2 linked regions of the Homo sapiens genome follow. The protein of the gene in region 1 purifies or fractionates together with the protein of each later gene. This does not show direct contact. Each region holds a gene or a part of one and is shown on either strand. Other genes may lie near its edges.

Region 1 (3,500 bases):
AACCTACAATTGGTACATAGGTATGTAACTCTAAACTGTAAACTTGGGGCTTTCAGTTTTCACATGTGGAAACAATTTTAGCCATACAAAAACGTGCAAAAATTATCAGTCATAATTCAATTTGGATGCCAATAATTTAAGAGCTTCAAAAACTACATGGAATAACCACTCATAGTGTATAAGGTCATTTTCATTGCCAAAAAACCCCTAGGTTATAAAAATTATAGGGAGTAAATATAGCCAAATATACCAAAGTATTGTAGGGAAAGAGGTCTCTTTGCTACTCTTTCCCAACTACTGTTCTTGCCCAAGAGAGTCTAGCAGCACAGGCAGCATACCTCTGGGCATTCTCCCAGGTATATCTGCTGGCTACTTTGCCAATGGGCTTAATCAAAATTGTTTCCACACATACAGCTGCCATTTCTCTCTCTCTGACCTGTAAAGCAGGGAATAAATGACTCAGCATGCCATTTCTGAAAGACTGCCAATTCCTAGGTGACTAGAATAATATATCTCCTAGGCATTCAAACTGAATAAAAGTTACTGAATTCCAACTGAGTATAAAGCAGTCAATAAATGCTTACTAATGAAGAGCTCTAACATTTATCCAGGAGAACTACGGATTATTGTGCCAAAAAAGAAACTTAAGTCTTCCACTTCCATCTAAGCCTTAGAGTAACTAAAATATAGCACCATTACCAAATGATACTAAGTAAACATACTACCTGTACTAGAAGCAATACAGTATTTCTCTATAAGCCATGAAATAAAGGATATATAGATAAATATAGTAAGTTGAGAATGTAAATAATATATCAACATTATGAATGAGCAGAACAGTTAGGCATACTATAGAGTGATGAGTATGAGATACAGGAACTGTATATAAAATAATTCCTCATTTATCTCATGCTAGAAAACCTTTAAGAGACAGTGAAATCTTTAAGACGATTTAAAAAAATTAAGTGGAAACTAAAAGAAGTCTTCCCTTTGACAGAGGGAAATGCAAGGCTATGTGTATAAGAATGTACTGTATAGAAAGTAAAGCCCAATAAAGAGTATTTTTAAAAAGCATTTAAGATTAGAACCACAATGTAATGCTACAGCACATGAGCACAATAAAAAAGGACATAGCCCATCAAAGTAACAATCCAACTCATTACTCTTTTTTTTATTTTTATTTTTAAGAGAAAGGGTTTTACTACACTGCATGTTGCCTGTTGCCCTGATTGTCTTCAAACTCCTGTACTCAAGCAATCCTCCTGCCTCAGCCTCCCAAGTAGCTGAGACTACAGGCACATGCCACCATCCTCAGCTCACCAACTCAGTATCTTTAATGATGGGATTAGTAATTACTGACAAGCTTCAAACCCATATAAAAAATGTTTTGTTATGTGGTTAACTTCTCTAAGGAAGATAATTTGAGTTAATATGACAAAATAGGTAAAAATCAATAAAATCTCTTACACAGAACAGTTGTTGAATAAGAAAAAAAATCATTCAATATAAAACCTAAAACTATAGTAGCAAAATGGTATCTAGCAGATGGCTTCCTTCTAGATACAAAGTACCTTATATCCAATATTTAAAATACATATGTTTAGGGCTCTTCAAATTTTTTTTAAGGACTTACTCTATTTCTTAGACTATCACGTTGTTCCATAAAGATTTATTCAATAAAGGTTAACTTTAGTTTGGTCTCTAAATTTTTTCAAGTAAAGCACAAAGTTGAAATTAATCTAAAACCAGATTTGGAAATTAATGTCACTGGACCCAGTAATCTGATTCCAGGGTTGATATAAATTTTATTCACTACCATTCAATTTTAAAAATTATCAATTTAATATATTTAACAGTTTCTTTTTTAAGTCTAAGAGAAACAGAGTTAAAAAGATTAGGGTCTTTGGCAGGGAGTACTGATGTTACCCTACTTGGCACAGTGACGTTTCAGTTGTGTTCTACAATGTCACTGACATTGTTTCAAAGTTAAATATTCAGCACATTCTTACCCTGAAAAAATTAAGAAATATAAGTCACAAGCAAAACAATTTTGAAAGTTTCAAACTACTATATCTAAAACAATGTCTATCAGTGAAAAGCAAGAAATGAGTCACAAAAAGCTATTTTCTTCGAGATATGTGTCAAAGATTTCTAACTTGAAAATTATACATACTCGTTTTAAAGGACAGAGTGATAATACTGTCTTTGAATTTTAATATAATGAAAATATTAATAAATACAAATTTAAGGTACATTTAAAAAACTGAGCAGTCTTAAATTTTAGATAGCCTACTCCTATCAATTAAAAGTGAAAGGTCATAAACCCCATACCTTTCCAACTGCTTCTGATGTTTCTCCTCCCTAGCCTGAGCCTTCATCTGTTGTACTTCAATAGTATCAGGCTTCCTTCTTCGCATGTATAGTTCATGGTTTCCCATACATAAGGCCAAAATCCGCTTATTGATTCTCAGACGAGGTGCATAAAACACAAAATCCTAAACATAAAGTATTCTGAATTTAAAATCTTCCTCAAGGATACTGTCTCTCATAACAATCTGTACTAAATTTTAACATGAGGTATGAATTTTAATGTCATATTACATATAGTTTAGAAATAAGAAATCATACAATTTCATAACTCCCAGTGAGCATGACATACTTTCACATAACTGGTTCCTCACCTTTTCATATCCAACCAGTTTTGTAAAGAGGCTAATATTCTTATCCTTGCAATACATTAAATGTCATTTATTCCTTTTTGTTCTCGAAAGTAACTATGAGCACCTGTTCCTTATACACCATTTGCCATTAATGTCAAAATTGGTTCTTCGTTCATGGCTGTAGAGTTTTTTTTAACCTAGAATTGTTCTTTTTTTTTTTTGAGACGGAGTCTTGCTGTCATCCAGGCTGGAGTGCAGTGGTGCCATCTCAGTGCACTCCAACCTCTGCCTCCCGGGTTCAAGAAATTCTCATGTCTCAGCCTCCCTAGTAGCTGGGATTACAGGCATGCACCACCACATCTGACTAATATTTGTATTTTCAGTAGAGATGAAGTTTCACCACGTTGGCCAGGCTGGTCTTGAACTCCTCATCTCAGGTGATCTGCTCCTCTCGAGCCTCCCAAAGTGCTGGGATTATGGTCCTGAACCATTGCACCCAGCCTGTTCTTCTTACTTTTACCTTTTCAGTAACTAACAGGGTTAGGATACTAGAGTATACTTGACATTAGAGGAACTTTAAAAATCTATTTAAATAAAAAGATTTCTTAAGTTCAAGGCTTCAAGTTACAAAAATACAAAGTTCATAAAGCAAAACTGTATAAACGAAGTTAATTTAGAATAGGGCTACCTCTACTACATTCTAGCCACCAATGAAGAAACACTTTAAAATTGCTTCTTAGGAATGGTGTTTTCATTAGCCTCCTAATAAATATTATCTATTTATAACTGAATCTCAAATAAAATAAAATTCTAATATTTACATCTTACTTTAAAAAATTA
Region 2 (2,793 bases), on another chromosome or scaffold:
GGCTTGCTAGTGGAATACGTCCTTATATAGGGACTTGAAGAGTTTATCTAAATAGACTGACTTAAGGATGCTTTTCCTCTTGTTAGACTTGTATGACATTACTGAGAAGATTTAGAGTTCTAGAAGTAGAGAAGACTGATTAGCTTGTGCCTGTGTATGAAGAATGACAAATTAAGACAAAAGGTTATGTAAACCATTTACTAAAAAAGTCTAAATTTTTATATTCCTAGGCCCCTACTTATCTTTTACAAACTTTGAAGGACCTGAAATTCTTTGGACACCATCAGATTTAGTTTATAAGAGTTCTGATTTTGAATCAAGAAATTATTCATGTAGTTTTAAAACACAATTAAAATTTTCAGTCAGGCTGAACTTTTGTGCACTTCCTCATTTATTCGAGAAACCCCACCACTAATGTATTTAGACCTTAATATGATGGCTTTGAGTCTTAAATCATTGTCCACCTAAAATAATATACCAAATAAAGATTTTTAAAGTGCTGCATATGGTTTCTGTAAGAGGTACATAATTAGATTACCAGCATTATCCTTTAGCTTCAAAAGTAAAACTCATAGTCAGGATTTTACTGATAGTACAGGAAGAAAAAAAATAACCACTGTTGAAAAATAAATGAAAAAAATTTTATTGAGTATTACTTTATACATGCAAATTGAAAGTGAATCTATATTAAGTTGACTATTCCACAATAAAAACCTATGAAATGGGAATGATCAAAGCTGTCTAACACAATACTAATGTGTTCAATAAATTATCCAGATGTTTTTCCACAAATATTTGGATTACCTGAATTAGCTGATTCTTCAGCAAAAGTTAAATTTTAGCTTTAATATGGTAGCAGCAGGATGCTACTTAAATTTAGAAGAAAAACATAAGAATAAAAACCCTGAATAGCATAGCCAAATCTTCCAAGAAATAAGTTCACCAAAAAAGTAGCATACACCTATTTGGTATCCAGAGGAGGAAACAAAACACAGGCACTTAATCAACATCCACCAAGTGATCATCACTAACATTCTATTATTACCAGAGTAACTGTCGATATGTGAACTGTAGATTAGAACAGACTTACATATCTAAAAACAAACCAGTAATCAATAATATATACAGAAATACTAACTTGAAGTCACATTTAAATACCATCAACAGTTTGGTGTATCTGATATAACTGAATTCATTTCATCACTGCTATAAATTCCTTAAAAGTGTTCTTTTCCTAATTAACATTATCTTTAAAAAATGGTAGATATTTCCCAGTATGCATCAGTTTTTTCACTCCACCATTCAGTAAATGTTGTAGCAAATTAAATAGAACCTATTAACTAGATCTAAAAACAGTGGCTGAATACTTAACACAAAGAAGTACTTTTGAGTAAACTATTCAGATTAGACAGGCTAATGCTAAGACTGCATTTTGTGCTACTGACATGCACTATATAGATCGTACACTACTAGATGGAAAGTTGGTCCATGTCCATTTATTTAAAGATTCTGTAACACCTGTAATAGTATTTAATACAGCTCCCACATACTATATTCCTCTCACATAGACATAGTTATTTTTAGTGGGGATAAGGATATGACTTTAACATGCTATGAGATTCTAGCTAAGTAAAATAAAAACAATATGGACTCAGATTTTCTTAGGAGATATTAGTTCAAGTTTTTAAACTGGGAAACAATCAACTTCCATATATCCAGGAGAAACTTAGCATGGGGGGAGGTGCCTTAGTTGATGTGCCTGATAAGCAAACTGTTAGTTGTCTATTAGTATTATGTTTTCGGCTTAATGTAACAACAAAAGAAAGTTGTCACACTACCTCTCAGATAATATCAATTACAATCTTAGAGACTGTAATTGGGAATACAATCCTATAACAAGTTATTAACAATATCATGAATAGTTATTAAGTAAGTGCCAGCACTACATGCAACTTACTGGTCACCAACTCAGAACCCATAAAACTATACACATATGCACAAAAAAAAAACTCCAAAGAAAGATACCTATCACTGTACATATGAATACTGTCCAGGATATCAGATCAATTATCAAATCCAAGGTCTCTGCTGTTTTGTCTTACAGTGTTGAATATATGAATGCTTCTCTATTACACTGACTTGTACTATTTTCAAGAAATTAAGTGGATTCAAAATCTTACATTTTTATTTCTAATTATAAAATCCAGATTAATCCAAAAAACACAAACCACATGTAACCGAGGTAGGTTTTTCACCTTAAGAATACATTGCTTCTACCACAATTAAAAATTTTTTAAACTGAAGAAAAAAAAAAACTACATTGCTCCACATACCTGATACTTAATTTTCTATGTTTGAAACTACTTGAACAAGTGTGACAGTGCTAATCTACTATATTTAGTAAATCCCTTAGTACCTATAAATACACACCCAAAAGCCCTTCCCTCCTTCTCTAATGGTAACTGTTGTATAATAAAATTGTCAACAACTCTAGAAAGATGAAATAAAGATTACTATAGCAATCTTCAATTAATTCATTTCAGAAATCAAGGAGGCAAGTCATGTTCATTTTAAAGATGACAAACTTACTATTTTGAAAATGAGCTCATAAATACATTAGAACTTTGAATGTGCTTTATTATGCCACAAATTCCCAGGAGATTTAAGAAATAGTATTTCTGAACAGGAATAATAATTTCACAAATACTAACACTTTATTGACAATAGACAAGTCTTTTAGGGTAGTGCACATGTACTTAAAAACTACCTTCTACCAATCTCAACACTTTTTAT

Evidence for each region. The genes of interacting proteins can lie anywhere in the genome.
Region 2: the proteins of RDX (region 1) and PAWR fractionate together in Homo sapiens (co-fractionation; one large-scale study listed by BioGRID). This does not show direct contact.

Annotation. Positions count from the first base shown.
Region 1 is NC_000011.10:110,251,615-110,255,114, forward strand, and holds part of RDX (radixin), read right to left. Parts: intron 2,496-3,500; coding exon 2,332-2,495; intron 1-2,331. UniProt on the Homo sapiens protein: Probably plays a crucial role in the binding of the barbed end of actin filaments to the plasma membrane.
Region 2 is NC_000012.12:79,587,172-79,589,964, forward strand, and holds part of PAWR (PRKC apoptosis WT1 regulator protein), read right to left. Parts: 3' UTR 1-2,793. UniProt on the Homo sapiens protein: Pro-apoptotic protein capable of selectively inducing apoptosis in cancer cells, sensitizing the cells to diverse apoptotic stimuli and causing regression of tumors in animal models.